Homo sapiens: one gene and its partners. The protein of the gene in region 4 purifies or fractionates together with the protein of the main gene of each other region. This does not show direct contact. Each region holds a gene or a part of one and is shown on either strand. Other genes may lie near its edges. The genes, in order: RSU1, ZKSCAN4, TMOD3, DHX15, MCMBP, CAPZA1 and SF3A3.

The links.
Region 1: the proteins of DHX15 (region 4) and RSU1 fractionate together in Homo sapiens (co-fractionation; one large-scale study listed by BioGRID). This does not show direct contact.
Region 2: the proteins of DHX15 (region 4) and ZKSCAN4 purify together in Homo sapiens (co-immunoprecipitation; one large-scale study listed by IntAct). This does not show direct contact.
Region 3: the proteins of DHX15 (region 4) and TMOD3 fractionate together in Homo sapiens (co-fractionation; one large-scale study listed by BioGRID). This does not show direct contact.
Region 5: the proteins of DHX15 (region 4) and MCMBP fractionate together in Homo sapiens (co-fractionation; one large-scale study listed by BioGRID). This does not show direct contact.
Region 6: the proteins of DHX15 (region 4) and CAPZA1 fractionate together in Homo sapiens (co-fractionation; one large-scale study listed by BioGRID). This does not show direct contact.
Region 7: the proteins of DHX15 (region 4) and SF3A3 fractionate together in Homo sapiens (co-fractionation; 3 studies listed by BioGRID and IntAct, with this or other methods). This does not show direct contact.

The regions. Positions count from the first base shown.
Region 1 is NC_000010.11:16,691,416-16,695,610, forward strand, and holds part of RSU1 (ras suppressor protein 1), read right to left. Parts: intron 3,741-4,195; coding exon 3,608-3,740; intron 1-3,607. UniProt on the Homo sapiens protein: Potentially plays a role in the Ras signal transduction pathway. Capable of suppressing v-Ras transformation in vitro.
Region 2 is NC_000006.12:28,242,053-28,246,247, reverse strand, and holds part of ZKSCAN4 (zinc finger protein with KRAB and SCAN domains 4), read left to right. Parts: intron 1-272; coding exon 273-1,132; 3' UTR 1,133-4,195. UniProt on the Homo sapiens protein: May be involved in the transcriptional activation of MDM2 and EP300 genes.
Region 3 is NC_000015.10:51,835,978-51,840,172, reverse strand, and holds part of TMOD3 (tropomodulin-3), read right to left. Parts: intron 1-4,195. UniProt on the Homo sapiens protein: Blocks the elongation and depolymerization of the actin filaments at the pointed end. The Tmod/TM complex contributes to the formation of the short actin protofilament, which in turn defines the geometry of the membrane skeleton.
Region 4 is NC_000004.12:24,539,264-24,543,458, forward strand, and holds part of DHX15 (ATP-dependent RNA helicase DHX15), read right to left. Parts: intron 3,764-4,195; coding exon 3,677-3,763; intron 2,760-3,676; coding exon 2,610-2,759; intron 1,686-2,609; coding exon 1,577-1,685; intron 1,037-1,576; coding exon 845-1,036; intron 1-844.
Region 5 is NC_000010.11:119,838,215-119,842,409, forward strand, and holds part of MCMBP (mini-chromosome maintenance complex-binding protein), read right to left. Parts: intron 2,747-4,195; coding exon 2,629-2,746; intron 487-2,628; coding exon 321-486; intron 1-320. UniProt on the Homo sapiens protein: Associated component of the MCM complex that acts as a regulator of DNA replication.
Region 6 is NC_000001.11:112,657,502-112,661,696, reverse strand, and holds part of CAPZA1 (F-actin-capping protein subunit alpha-1), read right to left. Parts: intron 2,676-4,195; coding exon 2,596-2,675; intron 1,997-2,595; coding exon 1,918-1,996; intron 492-1,917; coding exon of another isoform or gene 462-491; exon of another isoform or gene 445-461; intron 1-444. UniProt on the Homo sapiens protein: F-actin-capping proteins bind in a Ca(2+)-independent manner to the fast growing ends of actin filaments (barbed end) thereby blocking the exchange of subunits at these ends.
Region 7 is NC_000001.11:37,976,260-37,980,454, forward strand, and holds part of SF3A3 (splicing factor 3A subunit 3), read right to left. Parts: intron 3,275-4,195; coding exon 3,206-3,274; intron 2,797-3,205; coding exon 2,729-2,796; intron 2,569-2,728; coding exon 2,461-2,568; intron 695-2,460; coding exon 625-694; intron 1-624. UniProt on the Homo sapiens protein: Component of the 17S U2 SnRNP complex of the spliceosome, a large ribonucleoprotein complex that removes introns from transcribed pre-mRNAs.

The DNA of each region.
Region 1 (4,195 bases), on a different chromosome or scaffold from region 4:
ATTGTCTTATCAGCTAACAGTCCATATTTTGGGCTAGTATGTTTGACAAAGGGGTGACGACAGCTGCTACAGGAGAATGACAGAAGGACAAAAAAACTGAAATACACAAAGTAACCAACCTTCTTCTCCTTCCCAAGGAGGACAGAAGAGAACTCACAGCAGGCCCCTGCCCTAGCATAGCTCATGTACCTTGTGACCTCCCAGCAGAGCATCATGTAGATGCCCCTAAAAGCAGCTGTTATGGAACCAGCTGGTCCCCGTGGAAAGGAGGCAATGGCTCTCCGGTGCTTACTGAAGCTGCTGCTTCTTTTTTTTTTTTTTTTTTTTTTTTTTGTTTGAAACACAGTTTCACTATGTCACCCAGGCTGGAGTGCAGTGGCGCCATCTATCTCAACTCACTGCAACCTCCACCTCTCAGGTTCAAGCGATTCTCCTGCCTCAGCCTCCCAAGTAGCTGGGATTACAGGCACCCACCACCACACTCGGCTAATTTTTGTATTTTGAGTAGAAATGGGGTTTCACCATGTTGGAAAGGCTGGTCTTGAACTCCTGGCCTCAAGTGATTCACCCTCCTCATGGTGAATCACCCCACAATTCACCCCAAAGTGCTGGGATCATAGGCGTGAGCCACCGCACCCAGCCTACTGAAACTTTTTAATGTTGACTTAACTGCATAAAAGGTAATCCAAGGCTCCATGAGGAAATGAAACAGAAAAAGTTAGCAGACACATTGCTTAGACTACGCCAACCCCCCAAAATAGGATGCTAATAACAGACATAAAAACAGATATACCAATTATGTTATAGATACCTCTCATTTATCCAGAATCCTAACCACATTCAAATCAGTTAAAATAGTCTGTAACAGTGCAGAATGGTGATTAATTGCCTAATAATTACTTTGAGGTAATACAAAATCCAGAAACTCACAATTTAATCTTTTAAAATTAAAAGCACTTTCATATGCAATGTATTCTCATCCTCTATAAATTATAAAGTGATCTATGGAAAACTAAAAATTGTTAACCAGAATAATAAACAGAGAATTTCCTCTAATTCCAGATGGCTAGGAGTTTGTTCATGCATTTTTCTGTATACTATCATATACAGAATGACTTTTTTCAAGATACCATACAAACCAAGCTCTAAATAGCTTCCTGTTTACTAAGAAAAAATTAGAGCCCCATCTAAAACTCACGATAGCAATGATTAACAATTTACAAAGAAGAAGATAAACAATCATCTGCTAATTTGTGACTATATTTTCACACATTTTCATAATTAACTAATTTCTAAGGGTGAGCTACATTCGTATTTTTTTAAAAAAAATTGAATCTGTAATAACTGTACATATCTATATGGCTTATGAAACAATTAATACACATCCTATACCTATCTCATTTTATCCTTAAGGTAAGTCTTTAGACTTATACTGTAAGTGTCATAGTATTGTCTAAAGTAATCTAAACCACGCTTTACATTGCTTTTATATAGGAGGATACGGTATCATTTTGGCAATTTTAGTGTATTTCATTTTAAGGCCATTGTTCTTTTTTCTTTTTTTTGGGATGGAATATTGCTCTGTCGCCCAGGCTGGAGTGCAGTGGCACGATCTCAGCTCACTGCAACCTCTGCCTCCCTGGCTCAAGCGATTCTTGTGCCTCAGCCTCCTGAATAGCTAGGATTACAGGTGCCCCTCCACCATGCCCAGCTAATTTTTGTGTTTTTAGTTTCACCATGTTGGCCAGGCTGATCTCAAACTCCTGACCTCAAGTGATCCACCCGCCTTGCCTTCCCAAAGTGTTGGGGTTGCAGGCGTGAGCCACCATGCTCCGGCTGGCCATTATTCTTTACAGCTTGTCTTCTCTGTTTCTGTCTGGTGGAAACATGGCCACAGCAAGTGCTAAATGTTTGACCAGGAGCATGGCGCTCAGGCTGCAAGACTGCAGAAATGCAGCCAGCCACTTCTGGGCAGAGGCTCTGCCCTGCCAATCAATCCCGACCCACTGGCCTGGCACAGATTCACAGGGTTTTCTTGAGTGTGGGACATATTTCTGATACCAAAAAAAAAAAAAAGAAAAGAAACTCTTAACTAAATGTGACCTTTAGCAATCTTCTAGCTTTCTTCCAATAGTTGGGATGTTAGATTCTCAAAAGTTGGTGCCAGGCTGGGCATGGTGGCTCATGACTGTAATCCCAGCACTTTGGAAGATGAAAGCAGGATTGCTTGACACCAGGAGTTTGAGACCAGCCTGGGCAACAAAGGGAGACCCCGTCTCTGCAAAAAATTAAAAAAATTAGCTGGGCATGGTGGTGTGCTCCTGTAGTCCCAGCTACTTGGAAGGCTGAAATGGAAGGATTGCCTCAGCCCAGGCGCTTGAGGCTGCAGTGAGCCGTGATTGTGCCACTGCACTCCAGCCCAGCAATACAGTGAGACCCTGTCTCTTAAAAAAAATTAATTAATTAATTAAAAAATAAATTTTAAAAGTTGATGTCAGACACAAAAACAGATTACATTTGAGTAGGGATGTTTTTGTCTTTTTTGTATATGCTTAAAATTATACTAGATCTCAGCATTTGGGGTCAGGCAAGTATTTGATAAATGACAGTTTGTTTTGCAGCTGGGGGCTGGGATAAGGTAGGAAAATAATGACGGTACATATAACAACAGAAGCACGTGGAAGTGGCAGAATTCCTTTCAACCTTGACACATGGAGGAAGAAAGAAGCAGGAATCGTGAGGTTTTTGGGACAGTTTTGCATAGACTCCTTTCACCTGGAGTGAGGACTTGAGGTATTTGGATGCTGTGACTTTAAGCTGGCAGATTCCGCTTCCTCTCCTGCCTTCCCCTTTTCTCTAAGAGATTATCATCTCACTACAGTACAAGCTTCTCTATAATAGAATGACGCATTGCTAGTACTCTCTACTGATTTTATAAATAAACTGCTTAACAATTTTGTTCAGAACACTTGTAATTCTTTGCATTCACAGAAGAAAAAAAATATGTTCTGATCTGAATGGTGAATTTCCTTAGTGCCATGAATATTCAACTAATTTAATACCTCAAAAATTCTCTAAAGAAAATCAGTAAAAATCCCCTTGAAAATATCAATAAAAAACAATTTACAAATAGAGACAATGACCACATGCTGTTTTTTCTTGTTTTTTTCTTTTGAGAAAGGGTCGTGCTCTCTCATCCAGGCTCGAGTGCAGGGCATGACCACGACTCTGTGCAGCCTCAATGTCCTGGGCTCAAGTGATCCTCCCAACTCAGCCTCCAGAATAGCTACAATGACAAGCATGCACTACCATGCCTGGATAATTTCTTTTTCTTTTTCTTTTGTAGAGACGGGGTCTTGCTATGTTGCCCAGGCTGGTCTCAAACTCCTGGGCTCAAGCAATCCTCTAGTCTCGACTTCCCCAAATGCTAGGATTACAGCTGTGAGCCACACCACACCTGGCCGACATGCAGTTTTTAATAAAACATCTTAAAATGCTAAGTGCTAACTGCCATCAATAGGATACTGTCACATAATATTTTTAAAGGCGTAATTATAAATACTATAAAATCACAGTCTACTATTTCAGAAAATCAGAGTCTACTTACTATTTGTATGTCTCAGAACGGATATACTCAAAAACATGGGACACGCCAAGCTGGAACTGGTCTGCAATGGGGGTCACCCAGGGATTGTTCTCTGCTTTGAATACCTGCTTCTGGCCAGTTAAATCCAAGTTTCCTGGGGGGGGGGAAAAAAAAAGTGAAGGTCACTTCATCCAATACAGATCAGGTCTAAGAAGTCCTTCTCAGTAATCACAGCCTAAGTACCCTAAATCAAACCCTAAGTGCCTCTTGGATCATTTGATGTCTTTTAAATTTCTTAACCCAAGTCATCACAGGTACACAGTCATGACAGTACCTTGGCCCCAGAAATTAAGAACAAAGGAAGGAAGAAAGAAGACAGATGGAAAAGGAAAGCAGAGCAGAGGGAAGGAGGTATTTGCTGCAGAGACAAAAATGACTTGTTCAAAATTAAGAGAAGTGATAATATGAAAACCATTTAAAATTCTATCTTGACCATGTCAGTATGCATCATGCCTTGTCCTGGCTGATCTGGGCCCAATCTGATCAACACCACTTTTTTCACCAATCAAGACAGCGTATGAATGGAGAAAGACAGGAATATTACCCAAG
Region 2 (4,195 bases), on a different chromosome or scaffold from region 4:
CATCACATATGTCCCCTGCATAGTCCTGGGTCCTCACCATTTTCCCTCCACTCCCAGTTTGTACCCTTCCAATGGCCCCATTCTCATTCTCAGGCCTCCTTCCTCCCCAGCACCCCTGTTCTCCCTTTTTATTCCCATTCTTATTCTAGCACTTAAATCCTCATCCTGGGCATATATAGACTTCTGTAATTCTTGTCTCCCTAGTACTCATCACAGAGCTTTCCTCCCATGGCAGGGCATAACCCACAGTTGCCGGCCATTTGTTGTTTCAGGTGGTGAAATACAGACTAAGAGCAGGGACTTGCCTCCAGTCAAGAAGCTTCCAGAAAAGGAGCATGGGAAGATATGCCACCTGAGGGAAGACATTGCCCAGATTCCTACACATGCAGAAGCTGGTGAACAGGAGGGCAGGTTACAAAGAAAGCAGAAAAATGCCATAGGGAGTAGGCGACATTATTGCCATGAATGTGGAAAGAGTTTTGCTCAAAGTTCAGGCCTGACTAAACACAGGAGAATCCACACTGGTGAGAAACCCTATGAATGTGAAGACTGTGGAAAGACCTTCATTGGGAGCTCTGCCCTTGTCATTCATCAGAGAGTCCACACTGGTGAGAAGCCATATGAGTGTGAAGAATGTGGTAAGGTCTTCAGTCACAGCTCAAACCTTATCAAACACCAGAGAACCCACACTGGGGAGAAGCCCTATGAGTGTGATGACTGTGGGAAGACCTTCAGCCAGAGCTGCAGCCTCCTTGAACATCACAAAATTCATACTGGGGAGAAGCCATACCAGTGCAATATGTGTGGCAAAGCCTTTAGGCGGAATTCACATCTCCTGAGACATCAGAGGATTCATGGTGATAAAAATGTTCAGAATCCTGAGCACGGGGAGTCCTGGGAAAGTCAGGGTAGGACGGAAAGCCAGTGGGAAAATACTGAGGCTCCCGTGTCTTATAAATGTAATGAGTGTGAGAGAAGTTTCACACGGAATAGAAGTCTTATTGAACATCAGAAAATCCACACTGGTGAGAAACCCTATCAGTGTGACACATGTGGAAAAGGTTTCACTCGAACTTCATACCTTGTTCAACATCAGAGAAGCCATGTAGGGAAAAAAACTCTTTCACAGTGACCCATGGTATTCATGCCAACATTGGTGCTCATTTGTCACTGAACTGAAGCCACCCTGGAGCCCTTAATGGTTACAGAAATTGTGGACCAGGGCTTTATTTACCACTATACATCATCGGGTATTAGAAAATGTAGTCTGGCTGAGACGATGAGTTATCTTCTACATTCTAGAAAGTGATTGGAAGAAGTCATTTGATAAGAGGCCATGGGAGAGTGGTCTGGAAGTTGTAGGACCTAAAATAGTTTGTTCTCACCCAGTGTATTTAAATGGCCTTCTGGACTTGTTAATTGCCCTCAGCCAGCACTTTAGGACATCTGGTTGGATGGCTCTGATGTGGGGGGCTGCTGCTCTGACCATTCATTTTGCCTCTAATGAATCTTTCACAAATTGGTCAGATCCATGAGGTCTTTTACTCTTCTTTGTGCCTTGTATGATAGGTGCTAATAAACATTTATTAAATGTACCAGTAAAATGGCCTTTGTACCAAAAATTTGATGTTGTCTATATTTCTGAGAAATTTCTAACTTATGCCATTTGAATTTATGTATTATTCTCTGAGGTTCTAGATTCTGGGCCAATCTAGTGTATTTGTTGCCACGTACATACTGTTTTCAGAATTGGGGTGGGGGAATCCATATTTCTCTACCATGATAGTAGAGATGAGAAGAATGCCTTAAACAGCTTCTTTATCATTAAGACACTGTGAGATTGCTCCATCCATAGAACTCCACTGTCTGGTCAATGTTAATTATGTTAGTTTACATTAATTTTGCTACTCTTTAGGGGGAGTCTTTCACATTCAGGTAAATAAAAATCAACTTACTGAGTTAGATCAAAATGATTATTATGAATTTTGAACACATTCTGTAACACTTACCATCTTGTTTCTTACCTTTTAGTTATCTTGGGCCGACCAAGTGCTAAGACGTCATCTGTGTCCCTCTTCCCCAGTTTATAGCTGACTGTGCATCAAGGCTTATGCCAGCTAAGCTTAAACTTTCTCCAGGTCCGAAGATTCATAACAAATATTTATAATTATTATTCATGGTTTCAAAACTGCCCTGTCAGTTGGGGACAGGAAGATCAGGTTAGAGGCAGCCTATGAGGATAGAAACTCACATCTGAGTGGTAGGAGAAAATGTATCTGTTCAGGCTGGGTGCCATGGCTTACACCTGTAATCCCAGCAATTTGGGAGGCTGTGGCAGGCAGATCACATGAAGTCAGAAGTTTGAGACCAGCCTGGCCAACACGGTGAAACCCCATCTCTACAAAAAATACAAAAATTAGCCAGGCATGGTGACACACGCCTGTAATCCCTGCTACTTGGGAGGCTGAGGTAGGAGAGTTGCTTGAAACTGGGAGGTGGAGGTTGCAGTGAGCCGAGATGGTGCCACTGCAGTCCAGCCTGGGTTTCAGAGTGAGACTCTGTCTCAAAAAGAAAAAAAAAAAAGAAAAGAAAATGTGTCTGTTCAGAAGCACATTGGGAATCCTAGGTATCTGATGAAAAAGATTGTACAATATCCAAAGTGTTGATATGTGATGTCAAGGCTCAATGCTGTGAGTTATTCACAAGAAATAAGAATTTTTTGATATCTTCTGCTTTCACCCAAATCACCTGCGATGCTTAAAGACTGATTTCTTCCGAAGTGCTCAAGTGCCTATTACCATCTTCCAGCATTGCCAGACTGTCATGAATGGATTCTGCTTCTGATGAAATCCCTGACCATGTTTTATTCAGTCACCAGCATCGTGTTCTTGTCTATCCTCAAATACCCTTTCTGGATTTCTCCTCTGAAATACCACAGGCTGACCAGAGACTTACAAAACCGTAGAGCTCTCCCTTTATTAATTCCCTACAATCTTTTATTGCCTTCATTATCTCCTTTTCAGTCTAATTTAAAACTTCTTTAGAATTCCAAAGTTCTGTAGACTTTCTCTGCTCAATCTTTTCTAGCCTTTTCAAATTTCTTTAAAATCAGCTTTATTTATGTTATTTCCACAAAGCTAGCCATTTCCTTTTCTCCTTTTTCACTTCTCCTAAATATTTGCTAAATAGCTCTGATTTTACACACTCAAACTCATTACAGACAACTCTGTTAACTTTTCTGTGATATTTGTTTCTGATGTTACATGAAGAGATATATGTGAAAGCCTTTTACAAACCAGAAAGCATTATACAAATATAACTTCCTGAGATTAACTAAGGACCACTGTGCCTCCTTTCACTCCTGCGCCTCCAAGCCTAAAAGTCTTCTCTGTAGAGGAGGGAAATATTGTAGAAAAGTACTTTTCAGTGTCTGCTATGCTAGAAAAGGGAAGAAATAAAGCCTCTATTTGTGTGTGTGTGTGTGTGTGTGTATACACACTTAGGCTTAGGTCTTTAGTACAGTCAGGTTGGTAAGACTTGCACACAAATAAGGCAGTGTAATGATAAATGCCTTATGAGTGGTAAACTGAGGCTTGTAGAAATTCAGAGAAGGAAAAGGATGCTTCCAGCTGTGCAAGCTGTTATTATATGGACAGGGTGACATGTTAGAAAGCTGAATGGACTCACAACAACTTTGTCCAATTGAGTAAATAAAGCAAATTTTAAGAGATAGGGACATTGTAGGGGCCTTCAGTGCCAGAGCAAAAAGTTTAAATTTTATTCAGTAAGCACTGGGGAGCCATGATATTTTATAATCAAAATATTATCTAGGAAACTTTATCTGGTGTATTATATAATATCAAATAAAATCATTTTGCTTACAGTCTTTTAGATACTCCACTTTTCTATAAAACAGTGGTATGTGTTTATAAATAGCTGAATTATAAAATGAGTTTATCTGTAGCCTATTGAAAGGATGGCCAAAAAAGTTATTTTCCAATGAAATTAGATCTAGTAAAGTAAACTACTTAGTTGAGATATAAGCAGTATATAAAGCACAATAAAATGCCACTTTTCATATTTTCTTAAATTGCTTTTAGGAATTTTAGTGGTGACTAGTCTGCCATTCTATTTCATTTCTGTAACTGAAGCAGCGCAGAAATCTTCTATTTTCTTTTTTCTCCCTTTGCTTGAA
Region 3 (4,195 bases), on a different chromosome or scaffold from region 4:
ACTTCTATCAATATTTATCTCACCAGACCATAATCAGTCTCCATGTCTCTGACAGAGAGACCACAATCTATTTCCACCATAGATTGTGAGCACTTTGAGGGCAAGGACCTATTTTTACATTATCAGCCCCTAATATAGTGCCTGCAACATGGTAGACACTAAATTAACATAAAATAAAGTAATATAAGGGGACTCAGTAAGCATTGAGGTCAATGATGTGAGAACTTGGTTTTATCATATCCTAATGGGGCTGGGAGCGGAGTCAGTAAAGTTGTACTGTATTGTCACTCTTTGATTATCAATATTCTACTCCCCTATTCTTTCTGAACTGAGAAACAAATTCCAAAAAGAAATGTTTAAAAAATATTTAATCTGCTATAAAATTAGAAAATTTCCAAATGATAACACAAATTTTAGTAATTCATTTTAAGTATTAAAAATATTGCTCACTAGAAAAATTAGCCAGGTGTGGTGGTGTACAAATTGTAGTCCCAGCTACTTGGGAGACTGAGGCAGGAGGATTGTTTGAGCTCAGGAGTTCAAGGCTGCAGTGAGCTATGATCACACCTGCACGCCAGCCTGGATGACAGCGAAAGCCTGTCTCGAAAAAAAAAATTGCTCTGAATTGACTATTATACCTAAAAGTTAATCCTAATGGTCAAATGGCAAGTCATAGGAATAAATAGACACCAAATAAGAGAAGACTGAGTGTGGTGGCTCACCTCTGTAATCCCAGCAATTTGGGAGGCCAAGGCAGGAGGACTGCTTGAGCCCAGGAGTTTGAGACTAGCCTGGGTAACATAAAGAGACCCCATCTCTATAAAAATTACAAAAAATTAGCCAGGCATGGTGGCACGTGCCTTTAGTTCCAGCTACTTGGGCAGCTAAGGTGGGAGGATTGCTTGAGCCTGGGAGGCGGAGGTTGCAGGGACCTATGATCACACCTGCACTCCAGCCTAGGCAACAGAGTGAGACCCAGTCTCAAACAAAATGGAAAAAAAAAAAAAGAGAGATACACCTATTTCTTAGCTGTCAATCTGCCAGATGCAGGGAACATACCAAAAAAGAGAAGGCATGGTCACTTCCTTCTGACATCAAAATAAGCATGTTTTGAGATGAACAACCCCAAACCTCCTTGTGTGGGGGGACCCACCCCTTATTCCAGTCCCTGTGAAATATACAGCCAAAGAAACAACATAACAAAGCCACATCTTTCACAGCTGTTTGGTACAGGGGTCACCACTCTCAATCTAACCAGGACGGATCAAATTCAATTCTTCTCCAGAAATCTGGAAAGCTGGGAGACAAAACTCAAGTTGAGACATAAGGTATCACCAAGTCTGGAGGCACTACCATAACAAGCTAGTCACCTTGAAGCTGAAGCTAAGGGGAAAGCACAGAAGGTCAGTCTGCAGGGAAGAGAATGAAGCAGGGCTGGGGCTACAGGGAAAAAGTAAAGGAGGCACCTGCCTCAGGGTGTCTCAGTATTTAATAGGGTGCAAAAAAGCTCAGCAATCAAGATAAATTACACAGTAATGCATACTATTTTTTAAAAATTAAAATTAATGTCCTAAAATGGAGCAGAGGCACAGAAAGAAGCCAAAGAGAGCCCTACAAGCAGAGAGAGGACAGAGACTTTCAAAGTGTCTGCTCTGGGTACCAGTGGTAGGTCATTTCACGGACCTCAGCAGCCTTACAATAGTAATGCAGTACAACTCCCAGCTCTGCCACCATACCATCTAGCAAGATAGCTTAAGTGGGTTTGTGTTCCCGGAGACCTAAACACCTTGACTAACATACTCTATTTGGGAAAATGAGACATGCACATAAAGTGCTTTTTGTTTTTTTCAAGAAAATATATAATTAACTGCCAAAAGAATGGTACTGGCTATTAGTGTACAGAAATTCAGAGATCACTGTGGGTGGTCAGGGAGGGACAGAATTAGCTACACAGAGAGGAGTGGAGAAGTATATACTAAACAAAGAGATCAAAGCACAGGCTGAAAAAGGTTGGAGCTGGGAGGGAATCCAGGGCAAGAAGAAGAAAAGTAAAGGGAAAGGAGCGATCTTCACACACCCTGTGTTACACAGAAGTAAGTACGCCTCCATGCTCTTCCGCCTGCAGCCCTTACATCACACGGTTCATTACACAGGAAATGTCCTTTTGCACTCTTTCTCATGTTCAAATCCTTTCACATCTTTCAGGGACCAGTTCAAGTAACATTTCTGCAGAGGCTCCCCTTGTGTGCTATACCAGATTCAGGCAGTGGGAGAAGAAAAGAGGAAACAGTTTCTTCTGAGGTAGGAGGGAAGGCTAAGGGGCTTAAAGCAGTGCCAGCTATTCTCTGGTGGAGGGCACACTATATCACTTGGAATGCTGGCCAATGTCTAAGGAAAGCAGGAAGTGAGATGACTTGACAAGGAATAATAATGGGGGTTCAAGAAAAGTGGCAGAGGAAAGGCAAGCACAGAGGGTGTGCTGAGGACTAACAGAAGAGCCCACCTGCCCCGAAGGCCTTGCAGAGGTGAAATCCTACACATCTGCCTTGGTCCATTTCTGTGTAGGGTTCTGTAATTTTTCACCAAGAAACTGTAAATCTTAGGGACAACAGGAGAAAAACAAAAGTGGGGTGGGCATGACTTTGAAATCATCACATATTTATTGCTATTTCCAGTGAAATTAGACCCCCAACTCCTCAGCTGGTCTAGCACTCAAGTGGGCACATTAAAGAGGAAAAAAAAAAAAAAGAATAGTTCCCTAAGAGTATTAACCTGGGTTAATTATAGCCCACCATGAATGAAAATAAATCTTGGGGGTTGTATCATATCTTGTCACGTTTGCCTCAGGGTAAGGGCTGCCTGAATATAAGCCAGACTCATATACATTTGAGGGGCTTCTTCTGAATATTCCTTAACTCCTCATCAAAGTTTTACCACCACACCCAGGGAATGAAAATATTTTGTTGGCTGTAATTTTCCACATGGATGGAAATCCCCTACTGTATAAGTATCACTAATAATATCCTGCTCAAAAGAATTGCTATGCTATGGTTAAGGAAATACAACAATCTTCTTACCTACAAGTCTATATATATATATATCAAACCCAGCCCTCATTTTCTTCTAGTTTACCATGTTTTTATTCACTTTCTCACAGACACTTCAGGAACTGTGTTCACTTGTATGTACTTATCATGATGTTCATGCTTAGTTATGCCCAGATATGAAACTGTTTATTTGTAGGGGGTTATCATCACTGTATATGTTACCTTAGTTTGTAAGTTTGTCTTAGTGTGTTTGTGTTCCTTCCTTAGTGAGTGGGTGCAGGTGTTGAACATATATACCCGAGGCAGTGGATATCTTTATAGCTCAAAAAGGGTGCACATCTCAGGAGGAACCTTGACTGTATTTCAGTATTTTTCTTTTTTCTTTTTTCTTTTTTTTTTTTTGAGACGGAGCATCACTCTGTCACCAGGCTGGAGTGCAGTGACATGATCTCGGCTCACTGCAACCTCCACCTCCCAGGTTCAAGCGATTCTCCTGCCTCAGCCTCCCGGGTAGCTGGGACTACAGGTGTGTGCCAACATGCCTGGCTAATTTTTGTATTTTTAGTAGAGACGGGGTTTCACCATGTTGGCCAGGATGGTCTCGATCTCCTGACCTCGTGATCCACCCGCCTCAGCCTCCCAAGGTGCTGGGATTATAGGCGTGAAAACGAATTCTTAAGAGTAGTATAAGGGTGAAAGAAGCCAGGCACAAAATATGACATATTATATGATTCCATTTATATGAGATGTCCAGAAGAGGCAAATCTTAAGAGAGAGTAGATTAGTGGTTGCCTAGGGCTGGGTGGGGGAGACCAGGGGGGAATTGGGAGGAATTAGGTAGTAACTGCTAATGGTAAGGGGTTTATTTCTGGTGTGATGAAAATGTTCTAAAATGGTGGTGATGGTTCTACAGTTCTGAATGTAGCAAAATCCACTGAACTGTACACTTTAAATGGGTGAATTGTATGGTGTGCGAATTATATCTCACTAAAGCTGTTATATGTTAGAGAAAGGGGGAAGGAATGAATAAGGAAACCAAAGTTGTCCTGCATTTCCACAGAAAGGTAATCCTGTCTTTGAAAATCTTAGCTTTTTTCTGCTTCTATTTTAGTTAAGCTTTAGGATTCAAGACTCCTCACTGGTAAGTC
Region 4 (4,195 bases):
AAACCACTCAGCAATAGGGAGTCAGTTCTCTCCCGTGCTAAAACTAGTAGCAGAGAATATTTTAATCGTCAGTAAGAACTTATTTTCTATTTTTAGCTGTAAGAATAGCTATTCATTTGTTTCTTAACAATATTTCTTCTCCTTTAGGGAAAATCTAATTTCCAAGTTACTATTCATTTGTGGATTACATTTTATTGTTACTAAAAACAGCATTATTTCCTTAGCTTAATGGTCCAATTTTACAAAATTAGCGATTTTATATATTAGGTATGTTTCTTTTACCAAGTTTTTCTACCATTGTAAAAGAATACCATTATCAGATTAGATTTTAAGCCTAAAATTATACATTACTATTTCTATTTACTTGATATGAAGTTTGAAATTCATGTTTGTTCGGGTGCCATTGGAGTACATATATAGAAAAGGCTCAACTTAATGTATAGCTTTCAGTTTGTCACAGGCACACTTAATAGAGCTAAGTACTAGAGCAAAGTTCTTCCTGTACTTGCAGTAAAAAACAAAAAACAAAAAAACCACAAAGATAGCAGTGATGGACCTTTAACCAAAGAATTCAGTTACAACTGTGCTCAAACTTACTGCAATTTTTATTAGCACTCAAGAGAGCCAATGCTTTACTTATCTTTTGTGCACAATGACTTACTTTACTTTTGTAAGCACTATGTCATTACGAAGCTATTTACAAGGTATTTAGAAAACAAAATTAATTCCTTAAAACCATCTATAAAATCCACTATCATACTAAAAATTAAAAAACAAAAACAAAAGTGAAGTCCACCCAAACTTTGAAGAGCTGGGCTTTTTTTTGTTCCTTTCCCTCTATTACCTGACAACATAGCAGTAATAGATAGGACCTCATTAGAACAGTTGTAGTCACAACTTGCAATAACCATTTTTGCGAGCTGTGGATCTAGAGGAAACTCTGCCATCATGGATCCCAATTCAGTCAGATCTCCATCATCATTTAAAGCAGCCAGGTAATTCAAAAGTTCCAGGGCTCTCATCAGAGTTTCAGGAGCTAGTGGTAAAAGACAATCTATTAGACACGGTGCCTTAAGCAAGCAAAAATGTGACAAAGTACAAACTATTATAAGCAATCTCATTTTTCATTTTGCAGTGGACCAAACTCAAACTCAAACTGTCATCCAATTCAATTATACAGATCTAGCAAACAATGAATCATAAAAACATTGCAAAATTTTCCTGTAGGCAAAACTGTCTTCTTCCGAAATACATTAAATAATTGCTAATTCATCAATGTGTTTATCAAACTGTTTTTCCCCAAAGAAAACTTAGGAATTCTCACATTTTCATGCCCAGAGGATAATTCAATTTACCCAAACCCCCCCATAATAACTTTTGAAGAAAAAAAAAAAATGTGCTCATATAACTGTCACCTTTTTTAGTTTTAATGCTATCATGTAAGACTTAATCTTGATGCATACTGGATGGAAAAAGCAAAATGTATTTAATACATATATTAAATAGGATGGAGAAAAACACTAAGAGTCAATTTTGGTTAAAAGATCTGATAAAAATGTGTTTTGATAAGTCATACCTGGTGGATCCATAAAATCAAAATGTACCAAGTCATCAATACCAAGTTTCTTCAATTGTAACACAACTGATCCTAAATTAGAACGCAAAATCTCAGGATAGGTGTTATCCTAGCAAAGAACAAAAACATTTATTGGTTATGTTAAAAATGCCTCAGTCTCCTCGTTCCAGAAAACAAAAATCTGCTGCCTCCTGAGCTATTTGTTTTGGCATTACTTCTACACTGTCTCAGTAGAGATAAATACTTGTAGGCTAGACTAGAGAGAAACCATTTTTCTCCAACTATCTTTATAGTATTCAGTGTTTGCTACTGTCCATAAAACTCGCAACTGCAGAAAGAAATTCGTATAGTAGTCTTCACTCATCTGAACTCGCAATTTCCATGGTTTCAGTTAAGCAGTGTCAACAGAAAAAATTTTAAAGATTCCAGAAAAAATTCATCAAGTTTAAATTGTGCACCATTCTTAGTAGTATGCTATATACACTATACACCCATTTGTCACTTAGCAACCATCTGTTATTAGATCAACTTTTGCAGTATCACAGTGCTTGTGCTCAAGTAACCTTTTACTTAATAATGGCCCCAAAGCGCCAAGAATATTGATGCTGGCAATTTGGATATGCCAATGAGAGGCCCTGAAGTGCTTCCTTTAAGTGAAACGCTGAAAGTTAGTAAGGAAAGAAAAAAAGTTGAAACCTAGTAACAAAAGAGCAAAAAAATCACATCTAAAGAAAGAATGCATCTTCTATCAGTGAAATTGTAAAGAAAGATATTTATACATAGTATATGTAAGTAAGGTTCAGCATATTCCAGTTTTTAGGCGTGGGAGGGGGAGGGTCTTGGAATGTATCAGCCTGGAATAAGGGGGTGTACGACTATCTAAGTTAATTACACCATACATTTCACTCCTGGAAAAGCTAAGGAGCTTTTAATCCTAAAAGGCAAGATTAAGTAAATAAGGCAATGTTCTTCTGGTAAGATAATTCAACCTAACATTTTAAACATATCGGCAGGAAACGACAATACCCCATACCTGCATTTCTGTTTTATAAGCTTTCTCTGTGTAAAGTCTGAAGCATTTTCCAGGTCTGGTACGTCCAGCTCGACCAGCCCTTTGCTGAGCTGAAGCTTTACTAATAGCTGTCACCAAAAGGGACTCAACTCTGATTCGAGGATTGTAGACCTATTGGAATTGAAATAACACAAGAGTCTTTCTTCAGTCAAACACAAAATTGTGATGCAACAGAAGTATCCAAAGCCCACAGTTAATTCCAAAATAAATAAAGAAATATCGATAGCCATAAATCATGCTGCTACAATAGACAACCCACCATCCTGAACCTTAAAGTTCTTTCAGACATTCTAATTCGATCATCTGAAAGACTCTAACATGAAAAACTTCTTGTCAAACACACAGCTTATATAATCCTTACTCCTCCTAATTTCAGTTCTATCAGGCTGACCTTGTTCCTTGCTTTTTATATGCTGGGCAGTCAAGGATTCTGCCCGAAAAGAAACCTTCACTTTCAAAACTCGACGGTCTGAGTACTATTACTCTGTTACTGTTTAATGAAAAAATTTCCATCAATAACAAAATGTAATCAATTTATCCAAAAGATATTTGAAAAATAAAACGTATTTATTGAATAGCCACTTCACCTGCATTTCACTTCATTTAGTATACAGCACTGTTAAACTAGAGGAGTAACATAGTACTGTTTTCAAATAGTGTGCCTAGTTGACAGCAGTAACTCTAATAATGTTGGGAGAAGTGACTGAACTGCAGGGATAGAAATCCTGTACTTTATTACTAAACCCATACTGTTAAATGAATATACAAGCCAAAACACCCACCGTCACTACACTGAAACAAAGAAAGCAAAGCAACTCTAAAAGAAAAAAAAGCCTAGAATTACATATTAAATACTGTCTTAATTTCTGAGAGCCAGCCAAAACATAAAGGGTTCATACAGCAGAAATTTGCAAATAAAAAAAAAGATAGGAAAATAATTCTGAAAGGTAAATTTTAGCCATTAAATGAATTGGTTGTAAGTACTGTTAAACCAACTCTAATTTATAAAGTATCCACTAAATATGTACCTTCTGTTTCGCAAATCCAGGATCAATCACAAACACCACACCATCTATTGTCAAAGACGTCTCTGCTATGTTAGTTGACACAACTACCTGTTAAGAAATAGAGTATATAAATTATATTACATATCAAATAAAATTAACAGGACTGTTAAAGATCAGCCACTAACTTTCACTGACACAAGGAATTTCAAGCCAGCAAATAAACTAGAAATATCATTTGATCTTCAATGGCCAATGCTTTAAAAAGGTAAATTAATATTTAAGGAACCAAAATTTTGTTTACACCACAACAGCAACTTCTTTCTCAACAAAGCTATTACTTCAGGTTATCACTCAACCGCATTACATTTTGCTTAATCAAATTAATGGACAGCATAAAAAGAAAAATACTGATGAAGCAATATAACGTGCCTTACAAAACGTCTGATAAAACAGCCCTTATAATTAGTATTCAAATTTCCACAAGTGTATATTTCAATGTTTTTGGGCAATATTTACAAATGAAAACTTCGTTATTTATAT
Region 5 (4,195 bases), on a different chromosome or scaffold from region 4:
ATTATATAATATATAAAATATATAATATATGATATATATTAAATGAGACATTATATATTATATATGATATATATTATATAAGATATATTATATAAGATATATATCTGTTCCATTGTACTACTTTCAGAATACTATGGCAAAACATAGTTGGTGTATATAATTAGTTTATAACATATGCTTTAATCAAATTCATATGCCAAGCCTTTATCTTACGTTGTTAAATGTGAATTTGTCCATAGATACTCTTCTAAAAGTTATTCCTAGATCTGGCTTTAGTGCGAAGGAAGTCAGAAATGGAAGAGAAACATCTATGTACGTACCTGGGGTATCCAGCTGCCCCTGTTCCAGGAGAGTCTCATCGATTACAAGGGAAGTATTGCTGGGCAGCTGGAGGAGCCCACTGACCAAGCGATTGGCTGTGTAGTCTTTGTGGGGAATGAATTTCAAATGGTTCATGTTCTCTATAGTCATCTGCAGACGAAAAGACTGCAAAGAGAAATTTTTTAGTGAACAAGAATTTAAGTTTCCCTGTTTTAAGAAAATATGTACTTGGAATTAAACATTGTGTTTCATATGGAAAAAGTGATCTTATAAATTTCTAAGGGAGTAGTGATATGGTTTCTTGAACTCCAGAAGCAAAAATAGTATCTAGATCTTACATTTGAATTTCATCCATTTTATGAGCTACTTTATTCTCAAATGTCTTGTTCAATATTCTTGAAAATCAATTTTAATTTAACCAATGAAACAAATGGTAGATAACTGACATATAAATATTAAATACCCCAAAACCTAACCTCTTTCACCTAACACAAGCTAGCTAGCAAAAAGAAAATGTTAATTTTACTCTTCAAGACAGGGAGAGAAAAGCTTAATTTTCCTCTATATTCTTTGAGTTAAAATTGTATTCATTTATCATAGACATTTTTGAACAAACTTTTCAGAGAAAAATCAAGGAGCAGAGCACACTGAGCTGTGGATGGACCTGCAGCTCTCAGGAGGTGCCTCCAGGACGCGAGCACCTTCTCACTCAGTGTTTAACGAGTAAGCGAACCATCTATGCTCCTCCTCCAGCTCTTGAGCCACCATTCCCAACACCCTCTGTGCTCTGCCTTATACACCAATCCATTCTTCCATCCCTCCAGCCTCAAACAATGTGGCAGGGATGGAGAAGAGGGTATGGTGGGGGAAGGCTGTCAAGGAAGAGGTAAGATATATTGCGAAAATTTAGAGGAGTTTTGTGTATTACCTCAGTGATTCTAAGAAAACGGGGAGCTTAGGGGTGCTTAAATGACCTACCATGTATTAATTTATTTGTTGGTCTTCTACCTAAACTCTGTGAGGGCAAAGGATCTGTTTCAATAATTCTCAAAATGTGGTCCCGAGAACCCCCAGGGAATTGCTTAAACCCTTTTACAGGGTCAATCAGGTCAAAATCATGCATGGATAAAAGATCCTTTCAATGTGCGAGACTAATGAATTTTACCATAGCAGACTATGGAAAGTTTACGAATAGGATTTCAGATTCCACACTTAACTATCTTTAAGAAAATCTCATGTGGACAGTTTTGGTCTAGTATCAAAGACCACCACCCAGTTATCTGCAAAGGCTATCGAAACCATCCTTCCTTTACCATCTACTTTTCCATCTGTGTGAGGCCAGCTTTCCTTCATATACTTCAACCAAAACCTGAGACTACAATAGACTGAAGGCAGAAGCAGATACAAGCATCCATTGTCTCCTATTAATCCAGACATTGAAGAGATTTGCAAGAATGTAAAACAATGTCACCTTTATCACTAATCATTTTTGGCTTGGGAAAAGTTGTTTTTATAAAAATATTTATATGTAATTTTTTATTTTTAATAGGTGTATTTACTTTATCTTCTAGTTTGGTAAATTAATGATAAATATAATCATAACGTGAAAAACAGCTCTTTGAGTATGAACACATTTTTCAGAGTGTAAAGTGAGTCTAAGGAGACTGAGAACTGCTGGTATATTCCAGTCCACTTCTGCTTCTTGAGGGCCTGGACGAGTGTTAGCACTGAGACACTGAATACATTCGGTTCAATAAAGATCTAGTGCACCCTCTTCAATTTCCAAAGAAGTGATCAGTATTTTCAGTCACACAACTAATCAGAAGCAATTCCCCTGTTCCCAAGATCCTACCACCACGCAAATACTGCATTCCAGATACCCTGGCAAATAAAGTGAGCTCAACTTTCCAAACAGGAATTAAAATTGAGGCAATGGAGATAAAGAACTTTATTACCTCAACTAAAAGAATTATGCTCCTACAATTTAGAGTTTATTTAGATTTAAGACTTTAGTGTACAAAAAGGATACCAAATTGGACAAATTGGTATCAAGAGAGTGTAATTTTAAGGGAGTTACTACAATTGTTTTGTTAGACTTACAGAAATTTGTGCTTAGGCAAAAAGACAAAAAAAAGTGAAATGTTTAGGGGAACGTACATTTTAAATTATGTAATTTGGCAGGCTTTGTTTCCCCTTAAATAAGATCTATTAAAATCTCTAAGTTAAATATTTGAAGTGAATGAAAGACAGTTAGATGGATTTTTTAAGTGTGCTTAGGTTTATAATACATATTTATATTCATCTTACTGCTGGAACAAGATGTTGAATAATTCGATACAAGTGTTCTGTGAAGGTACTATTCCGTGGGCAACCACTCAAGTTAACTGTAAATTTTCCTAGTGGAAGGACATCTCTTCTTGTATATCTAGAAAAGAAAGAAATCAATCAATAAGATGCTGAAGTGACTTCCTGATTTCTATCAAATAGCGAAGAATAGAAAAATTAGCTTAATATTGTCATTAAAAATAAACCAGAATATTCTGACCAGTTATTTTATCAGAATAACAGCAATAAAAGTAATAGCCAATATTTGTACGTAAGTGCTGCTGGTCACGTGCCAAAGACCGTTCTGAGTATGTAAATGCTTCCTCATTTAACCCCTAACCATTCAGCGGTAGGTGCTGTTGTCTTTGCTTCACAGATGAGAAATCCGAGGCACAGAGATGATAATAAGCAACATGTTCATCTAAATGGAAGCTGACAGAGCTGGGATATGAATCCGGGTAGTTTGGTTCCAGAGCCTGTGCTCTCAACCATTATGTACTACTGTCACAGACTGATTTGAGAAAAGATAAGATTTACAGCACAAAGATGTTTCCTGCAACTTTATAATAGAGAAAAGCTAGGAAAAGCTAACATTTAGGGAAATGGTTACAGTATGGTACAACTGCATAGTGAAATACTTTGCAGCCACTACAAAGTTCATGAAGCATTATGATGGGAAAATGTTTAATATATATCAACTGCTGAAAACAAGACACGCATCTGTGCTTAGAGTGTAACTAAGACCTATGCAAGGATGTATACATATGTAAACAAAAACCAATGAACATGTACCTAAAGGTTAACGGAGGTTCTAAGTGGTGAAATTACAGATGATGTGCATTTTCCTCCTTATGTTCTTGGAACTTGTCAAAGGCCCACACTAGTTTTAAAATGAGAAACAAAGAAATACAGTGGAGTCAAGGGATGCGGTGCTAGTGTCAATGTCCACGTTAAACGTGCACATGACGTGGGCGCCTTGGGATGTATAAACAGAGCGTTCAGAATGCAAAAGGGATAAAACAGCTCATTTTACTCATCAGCCAGGTCCTTTATCTCAGGGGTCCCCAACGCCCAGGCCGTGGACCAGTACTGGTTCATGGCCTGTTAGGAACCGGGCCACAACATAGGAGGTGAGGGGTGGATGAGTGGGCATTACCGCCTGAGTTCCGCCTCCTGTCAGATCAGCAGTGGCATCAGACTCTCACAGGAGCGCGAACCCTATTGTGAACTGCACATCTGTGTGTTCCCTATGAGAATCTAACTAATGCCTGATGTTCTGAGGTGGAACGGTTTCATACTGAAACCATCCCCACTCCGGTCCATGGAAAAATGGTCTTCCATGAAATGGGTCCTTGGTGCCTAAAAGGTTGGGGACCACTGCTTTATCTGATTTTGGCTCTAAAATTTAAGGGGACATAATCAAAATGCTAAATGTGAACTGTGAGAAAAGGAATTTGTCTGTGATTTGGTATAACAGTTAACACTGGACAGATAAAAACCATGTGATGAAGCCCAATAAGGAAAACACACAAATGACACCAGCAATCTT
Region 6 (4,195 bases), on a different chromosome or scaffold from region 4:
TTTATTTACACAAAATTTACAATAAGCTTCTACAATGCTGATACCATGGTTCTAGGAAGTTAATGCTAATGCCACAGTTACAAGAGATCTAGAGCGCTAGGCTACTAAGATATTTTGTTAACAGAAACAGAACAGTATGCTGTCTTAGGTTGCACCTTCCCAGAAGGAGACCCCAAGACAAAGATTAGAGAAAAAGTAGTTTATTCAGGAGCGAATCTCACAAAGCTACAGTAGGGGACAGAAGAAGTGGGACACAGAAGGGAAGGAAGCCTTAGAGGTACGTTTATGAGCAGGTTACAGCTGTGGGTATTGGGCTCCGGAAGACTAAACAGAATGTGCTTGAAAGTTGTCCTACTTGAGGAAGCTGCCATATTTATCTACCAACTCTTACATATCACTGAGGGCTCCTCCTAGAGCTGTGAACTCAACACCAGCCTGTCTCACCTGAGTTGGGCATGCTCCTATGGCCAGGAGCTACTTGTTGCAGGAAGCTATAGGTATATATAAAAAGAGCAGATTTACTTTTACAGAATTTATTACCTATGCACTTGATTAAATTAGAGCATTAAAAAAGACAACTCTTGGCTGGGCACAGTGGCTCACCTGAGGTCAGGAGTTCAAGACCAGCCTGGCCAACATAGTGAAATCCCACCTCTACTAAAAATACAAAAATTAGCTGGGCGTGGTGGTGTGTGCCTGTAATCCCAGCTACTTGGGAGGCTGAGGCAAGAGAATTGCTTGAACTCAGGAGGCAGAGGTTGCAGTGAGCCAAGATTGCACCACTGCACTCCAGGCTGGGCGACAGAGCGAGACTCCTCCTTCTCCTCCTTCTCAAAAAAAAAAAAAAAAAAAAAAAAAGACAACTCTTGGTAATTGTTGTTAAAGCACAGCTTCACATAATATAATACAGGTACGATTAGGTACTGATCTTCTCGGTTACCTGTACCTATTCTGACCTTACAGTTAGTGAGGCTTAAATATTAAATCACCCTGAGTTTAGAAAGTCAAACCTCTGCTAGGATATTAAACTTCAATCCAGACAGGCATCAAATGAGTTAACAGCTATCTTATTCAGCTGCCTGTCTACCCTGACATCAGCATTAAAAATCTACTTCTGGGCCAGGTGCAGTGGCTCACGCCTGTAATCCCAGCATTTTGGGAGGCCGAGGCGGGTGGATCACCTGAGGTCAGGAGATCGAGACCAGCCTAACCAACATGGAGAAACCCCGCCTGTACTAAAAATAGAAAATTAGCTAGGCGTGATGGCGCATGCCTGTAATCCCAGCTACTCGGGAGGCCGAGGCAGGAGAATCACCTGAACCCAGGAGCCAGAGATTGCGAAGAGCCGAGATCATGCCATTGCACCTCCAGCCTGGGCAATAAGAGCAAAACTCCATCTCAAAAATCAATCAATCAGTCAATCAATCAATCAATCAATCAATCTACTTCTGCTTGGCTATTTATATTCCAAAACACCTGCCATTCTCTCTAGTTATAATTTTTAGGAATTAACCCAGCCTGGGCTGGGAGGTGGAGGTTGCAGTTAGCTGAGATCACGTCACTGCACTCCAGTCTGGGTGATGGAGTGAAACTCTGTCCCAAAAAATAATAATTATTATTATTATTAATTTTAAATCTTTCCTAAAACTGCTGTTTGATAATTCCTAGTTATATCTTATGTTACCATTGAAGGAAAAATAACAATAACCATGTTGCCATACACTCTACATGCTATCCTTTATCAACTCAGAATAGCTCTCTCTGTTTACCACCCCAAGAAGGAGGCTTCTATTTCTATTCACTGCCATCAGTCTCCCTTTGCATCTACACATACTTGGTCCTTATTTAATACCAAAGCAACCTGCACATGTTTTAAAGATGTGAAGTTTTAAGTCTATAAACATGTTGGAATCTCACCTGAATCTTAAGCACGCCAACCACCTGGGCTGTAGGTGGTGTGATGGTGAACTTCCACTCTGATCTCCAACGACCATTCCTATTAAAACACACACACAACATTGCAGAATTAGCAATAAGCACAAGAAAGAGGTGATTTGCCACTGAGGTACAGAAGTTGGGAAAGAGGGGTGCAAAAAAAGAAAAAAAAAAAGAGAGAGAGAGAAACTGTCATTTCCAGTTTGGCAAACCCAAAGCTCTGTCTACTCAAATGTAAGTCTGGATCTAAGTGGCCTGACCATAAGCCTTTTCTAAGTTATTTTGTCTTTCATTTTTCCTTTTTTCCCTTGAAATGGAAAACCATGCCTATTCTGCTCATGGGAGGCTCTTCCAAAATCAGATGAATAGGCTGCTGAGTTACACAATTAACTCAAGTAGCAGTAACCCTAAGCCAAGTAAAACTCAGATTTTCAACAGGGCACTTTACTAATCACTTGTTCTCACTCAAAATAAGAGTAACTTTTAAAGGAAAATATAATTATAAAACCTTAGAACTGTAAGGAATCTAAATCCCTCATTTATAGATGGAAAACTGAAGTCTGTAAGTTAAATAATTATTCCAAGCTAGTTGGATTAAAAACCAAGTCTCAACTGCTGGTTTCTTTCAGATGTAAATAGAAGAGAATATCTACTTCTTACCAGAAGTTTTTAGGCTGAAACTGGTGGCTTTCAATACATGCAATAATAGTCTGTTGCCCATCGATAGTTTTAGCATAAACCTATTGTTGGGAAAAAAAAATAGTTAAAGACTCCAAACACTTTTAATTTAAACAACATGCATTGTACAAAAGCAGAGTGTTAAATCCTTGGGGGAGACAAAGAATCACATAAAATGAGCTTAGAACACAATAGTGCACATGGGATATGAAAACAAAGCAGAACATGTTAGGTTCTACCAGAGACAGTGATACAATGAAAACAGAGGGAAATACTGCTCTTGGTTTGGGGTACAAGGCGGGTGCCATTTAGGCTGGGTCATACAAGACAGATGAGATTCTGATAAGCAGAGACTGAAAATAAAGGCAAGACAGGAAACTAAGGACTTGTTCAGTGAACAAGACTGTCAGGTTTAAAGGGTGTGTGTGAAGTGGACTAATGAAAGACAAAACAGGATGGTAGATTTAGGTCATGTAATAGTAGATGTAAAGTAAGAAGTTTAAGATTTTATTCTATAGGCAATGGAGAGACAGCAAAACATGACTAGAACTAATATTGTGGGAGAATAATCAATACTGGTATTCAAGATAAAACGAAGAAAAGCTGAAGCTTGGTTAGGAGGCCACAGGATTAATCTAGGCAACAAGTCAGAGTTATATTAATGGGAATGGAAAGGAAGAGTTGCACACAGAATGTAGAAGTACAATCAAAGTCTAGCAGTATATTGCAAATGATGGGCAAAGGAAAGAAGGAACTCAAGAGTGACTAAAAAGATGGTGGTGTCATTAACAAACTGGAAATTACAGATGGAGATGTCTAGTTAGTAGTTAGAAACACTAACTCTTCTTTAGTGTGGGAGAGGTGAATGGAAATGCAATCACCAAGGGAAAGTAAGAAAAAAAAAATAGCGCTTTATAGTCCACAAAATATGTTCTTACATGTATTTTCTTTTTCCTCTAATAAATCTGATGAAATACAGTGTTATCTACAGATAAGAAGTTGAAGTTCACAAAGCTTCTTGCCTAAGGTCACTCAGGAAGTGGTAAAGGTAGAATCCAAACCCACTGTTTTTGTGACACCGAAGTCTGTGTTACTTTACCTGCATTAAATGAATTATGAACTTTGGGGGAATGCCTACATTTACAAAGGTAGGGGAAAAAAAGAACTTAGTATAGAGTAAGAATAATTAGGGGGCTGGGTGCAATGGCTCAAGCCTGTAACCCCAGCACTTTGAGAGGCTGTGGCAGGGGGATTACCTGAGGTCAGGAGTTCAAGACCAGCCCGGCCAACATGGTGAAACCCCATCTCTACTAAAAATACAAAAATTAGCCAGGTGTGGTGGTGGGCACCTGTAATCCCAACTACTAGAGAGGCTGAGGCAGGAAAATCGCTTGAACCTGAGAGGCGGAGGTTGCAGTGAGCTGAGATCATGCCACTGTACGCCAGCCTGGGCAAAAAGAGCAAAACTCCATCTCTAAAAAAAAAAAAGAATTAGGGGTTGCTGACAGCAGCCTAAGTAAAAGATAATTTCTAGAAGTGGTTGATTGGCTTCAGTGTGAAATGCCATTCGGAAGTCATGGAC
Region 7 (4,195 bases), on a different chromosome or scaffold from region 4:
CTTCCACTTTTTCTTCCTGGAAAGAGATTTCTTTTCCTCCTACTCCTCTCCCTGCTTTCTCTCTGAGACAAGCATACTGGTCAGGCTAGGCCTTTCTCTACCCCAACCCACACTTCAGCTCCTCCTGAAATATTCAAGAACATTCACTGCCAGCTTTGTACTAATAATATTCTAGCCCTACTAAGTTTCTCATAATCTTATGAACATGTAAGTTGACTTACATGAGATGACTTATGAAAATGCCTTTTCATAAGTCATAACTGAAAGGCCACTTTGAGTAGCCTTTCTGTTACTTGCCCTTTGAGTGTCTGCTTTGTGGGCTACTCCTGAGTATTTTCTAAAGCTCAGGCACAGAATCTGCACTATTCTGGACATTATATTGTGAGGGGACTCTATTCTCCATGACTGGCTTTATGGGAATTGGGCAACTTTGGGAGTATCATCTAACAACAGAATAGGAACTTACTGAAGAGCCTTGTACCCTGACCTCTATTTTGTGCCATACTAGTTTATCAGCTATCCACTCCTCTTTTGAACCTAATGAAAAAGTATCTTCTGTGAGTTCCTCTCCCTTTAACTCCTGTGCTTTATACCATTTTCCACTTTCAGCAGTCAGTCACTTACCCCGAGAATCTCTACATATTCATAGATCTGGGCTTCTAGAAAAGCAATGTCTTTGTTCCTTTCAGTGTCTCTGAGAAAAAGAAACAAGCTGTTTCACTCAAGGATTCTCTCATCCATTGTTTTGTTCCCTATATCTGGGAACATTTATTGCACAACTGCATTAAAAATTATAAGCACATGAGAAATACGATGCTATGAAAGCAAATGCTCTGTTCATCTCAGGACTCTCTGACAAATACTGAGGGTATTTCTCAGAATGCATGGAGGCTTCCTCTATGACCTCACTTAGAAGATGAAGGACACATCAAGACCGCTTACATTTCCATCATTATAATCTACAAAGGAAATGTGGTATATAAGAGCAAGCTCTGCAGCAGGTAGACCTAGGCCCAAATCCTGACTCTGCTACTTAGAACTATGAGAGAGTGGACACATTCCATAACTTTTCTGAGTCCTTATCTGCAAAAACTCAGGATAACAACTAATTTTCTGGGTTGTTGTGAGAATTAGAAAAAAACGTACATTAAGAAAATACTGGGCCAGGCTCGGTGGCTCATGCCTGTAATCCCAGCATTTTGGGAGGCTGAGGCTGGCGATCACTTGAGGTTGGGAGTTTGTGACCAACCTCGCCAACATGGTGAAACCCTCTCTCTACTAAAAATACAAAAATTAGCTGGGCACGGTGGCTCACATGCCTGTAATCCCACCACTGTGGGAGGCTGAGGCAGGTGGATCACCTGAGGTCAGGAGTTCATGACCAGCCTGGCCAACATGGTGAAACCCCGTCTCTACTAAAAATACAAAAACTAGCCAGGCATGGTGGCGCACTCTGGTAATCTCAGCTACTCGGGAGAGTGAGGCAGGAAAATCGCTTCAAGCAGGGCGGTGGAGGTTGCAGCGAGCCGAGATTGCGCCACTGCACTTGAGCCTGGGTGACAGAGGAAGACTCCGTCTCAAAAACAAACAAACAAAAAACACACAAAAATTAGCCAATGTGGTGTTGCACATCTGTAATCCCAGCTACTCGGGAGGCTGAGGCAGCAGAATCACTTGAACCCAGAAGGCGGAGTTTGCAGTGAGCCGAGATTGTGCCACTGCACTCCAGCCTGGGCAACAGAGCGAGATTCCATCTCAAAAAAGAAAAAAACAAACAAACAAAAAAAACAACCCTGGGTCGGGCACGGTGGCTCGCGCCTATAATCGCAGCACTTTGGGAGGCCAAGGCAGGTGGATCACTTAAGCTCAGGAGTTGCAGACCAGCCTGGCTAACATGATGAAACCCCATCTCTACTAAAAATACAAAAAATCAGCCATGTGTGGTGGTGCGTGCCTGTAGTCCCAGCTACTCAGGAGGCTGAGGCAGGAAAATCTTTTGAACCCAGGAGGTGGACGTTCCAGTGAGCTGAGATTGCACCACTGCACTCCAGCTTGGGCAACAGAGTGAGACTGTCTCAAAAAAAAAAAAAAAGAAAAAAGAAAATACCTTGTATAAGTATGTAGCTCAAGAATTAGATTCAACTTTACCAAAAATAAGCTTAGAAAAATAGGTTTTGAACCTATTTAGCCTTTTAGCCTCCATAACCTATTAAAGGTGCCATGAATATGGTTTCAAATTTAGAAACTTGATGTGCTCTCAATCAGATGAATACAGACGGTCCTTGGTTTATATTAACAGTGATAGTACTCTCTGCTATTAGCAGAGATAAAGAGCAGACTGGATCTCTGTCAACCAATAACGGAGATAAAGCAGGCTTTAAAGTCTCCACTGTGGTTAAAAATTCTGCATGGGAATAACATTTAAAAGCCACAAGCAGCAGTGCTACCCCAGCCACTCACCGCTTGGTGCCCTTTGACTTGGGATTTTTGGCAAACAAAGAGGTATCAAGTGACTCCAGGGACTTTCCTTTGGTACTGAATAGTCTCTGGGCTCGCTCTTCTAGGGTCCTAAGGAGACAGGACGGCAAAGGATTTTAGGGTTACTTTACCACACAGGCTGGCTTATTTTTGCAGTGTGGAGCAACAAAAAAAATGGAATCAGAGCTACTTAGAAGACTGTGCAAACACACAGTAAATCGATAGTTTTGATAGAAAAACTATTCCTTACCCGCCACATTTCAAGCCTAAAGCTAAGAGAGCAGATTTCAATCTGTCCAAACCCAGAGAAGCCAACTCCTATACAAAGAAGAGAAAAATTACAATATTACATTAACAGATTTTTGGGAAACCCCAAATGCAGGCCAGAGGGTGGGTGTTCCTGAGGCTGTGGCAGGACCACACATTTCACAGCCAATCTAGCAGTAAGTCTAAACTCTCCAGAGGACTGAATCTATAGTTATCTTCAGACTTAACCATACTGATAGTGTTCCATTTACTTTACTACGGCTTAATGTAGTTAGAATAATTATTTCAGTTTCCCAAGTAGTAATTTTTTTCTTTTTGCCTTGCTACTTTCTTTGTAGATGCTTGATCTCAAGAAATAGTGCCTTATCACAACACAACCATGGTATTAAAGACAGGAGAGCAGTCTTTAAAGACAGAAAAATAGACAGAGAGAACACTACTACTGCTGAAGGAAACATACCTCCCAGGAGGAGAATGCAGAGAGGTCAAGATGGGCTCCAGCATGGGTCAGGGCACTGCTTGTCTCTTTCTGGAAAGAACAATATGGTATTTATTAAGATCCAGGTTTAGGCCAGGTGTGGTGGCTCACACCTGTAATCTCAGCATTTTGGGAGGCCAAGATAGGTGAATTGCTTGAGTTCAGGAGTTAGAGACCAGGCAGGGAAACATGGTGAAATCTTGTCTCTACAAAAAATTATCTGAATTAGCTGGGCATGATGGCATGTGCCTGTGGTCCCAGCTACTCAGGAGTCTAAGGTGGGAAGATCTCTTGAGCCCACAAGGTTGAGGCTGCAGCAGTGAGGTATGATCATGCCACTGTACTTCAGCCTAGAAGCCAGATGGAGACTTTGTCTCCCAAAAAACAAAACAAAACAAAACAAAACAAAAAACAAAAAAACCCCACCAGGTTTAGGATGAAGCTAAGGTTTGTCCACATTCTCTCCCTGGAGAGTTCAGGAAAAACTCATGTTTATCCCTAGAAGTGAGAATGTAGATTCCTAACATATGATCTGATAAGCTCTTGGTTGGCAGGAACCACATAGCAGTAATGATGTGATTGGTGAAAATCTGGGCACAGTCAAAGGCAAGTGGACCCTGGCAGTCTTGCTCCAAAGTACACTCAAAAAAACTCACATACGGCCAGGTGCGGTGGCTCACACCTGTAATCCCAGCACTTTGGGAGGCCGAGGTGGGCGGATCACCTGAGGTCGGGAATTTGAGACCAGCCTGACAAATATGGAGAAACCCTGTCCCCACTAAAAACACAAAATTAGCCGGGTGTGGAGGCGCGTGCCTGTAATCCCAGTTACTCGGGAGGCTGAGGCAGGAGAACTGCTTGAACCCGGGAAGCGGAGGTTGAGGTGAGCCGAGATCCCGCCATTGTACTCCAGCCTGGGCAACAAAAGCGAAACTCCGTCTCCAAAAAAAAAAAACATAGCATACTTGGCAG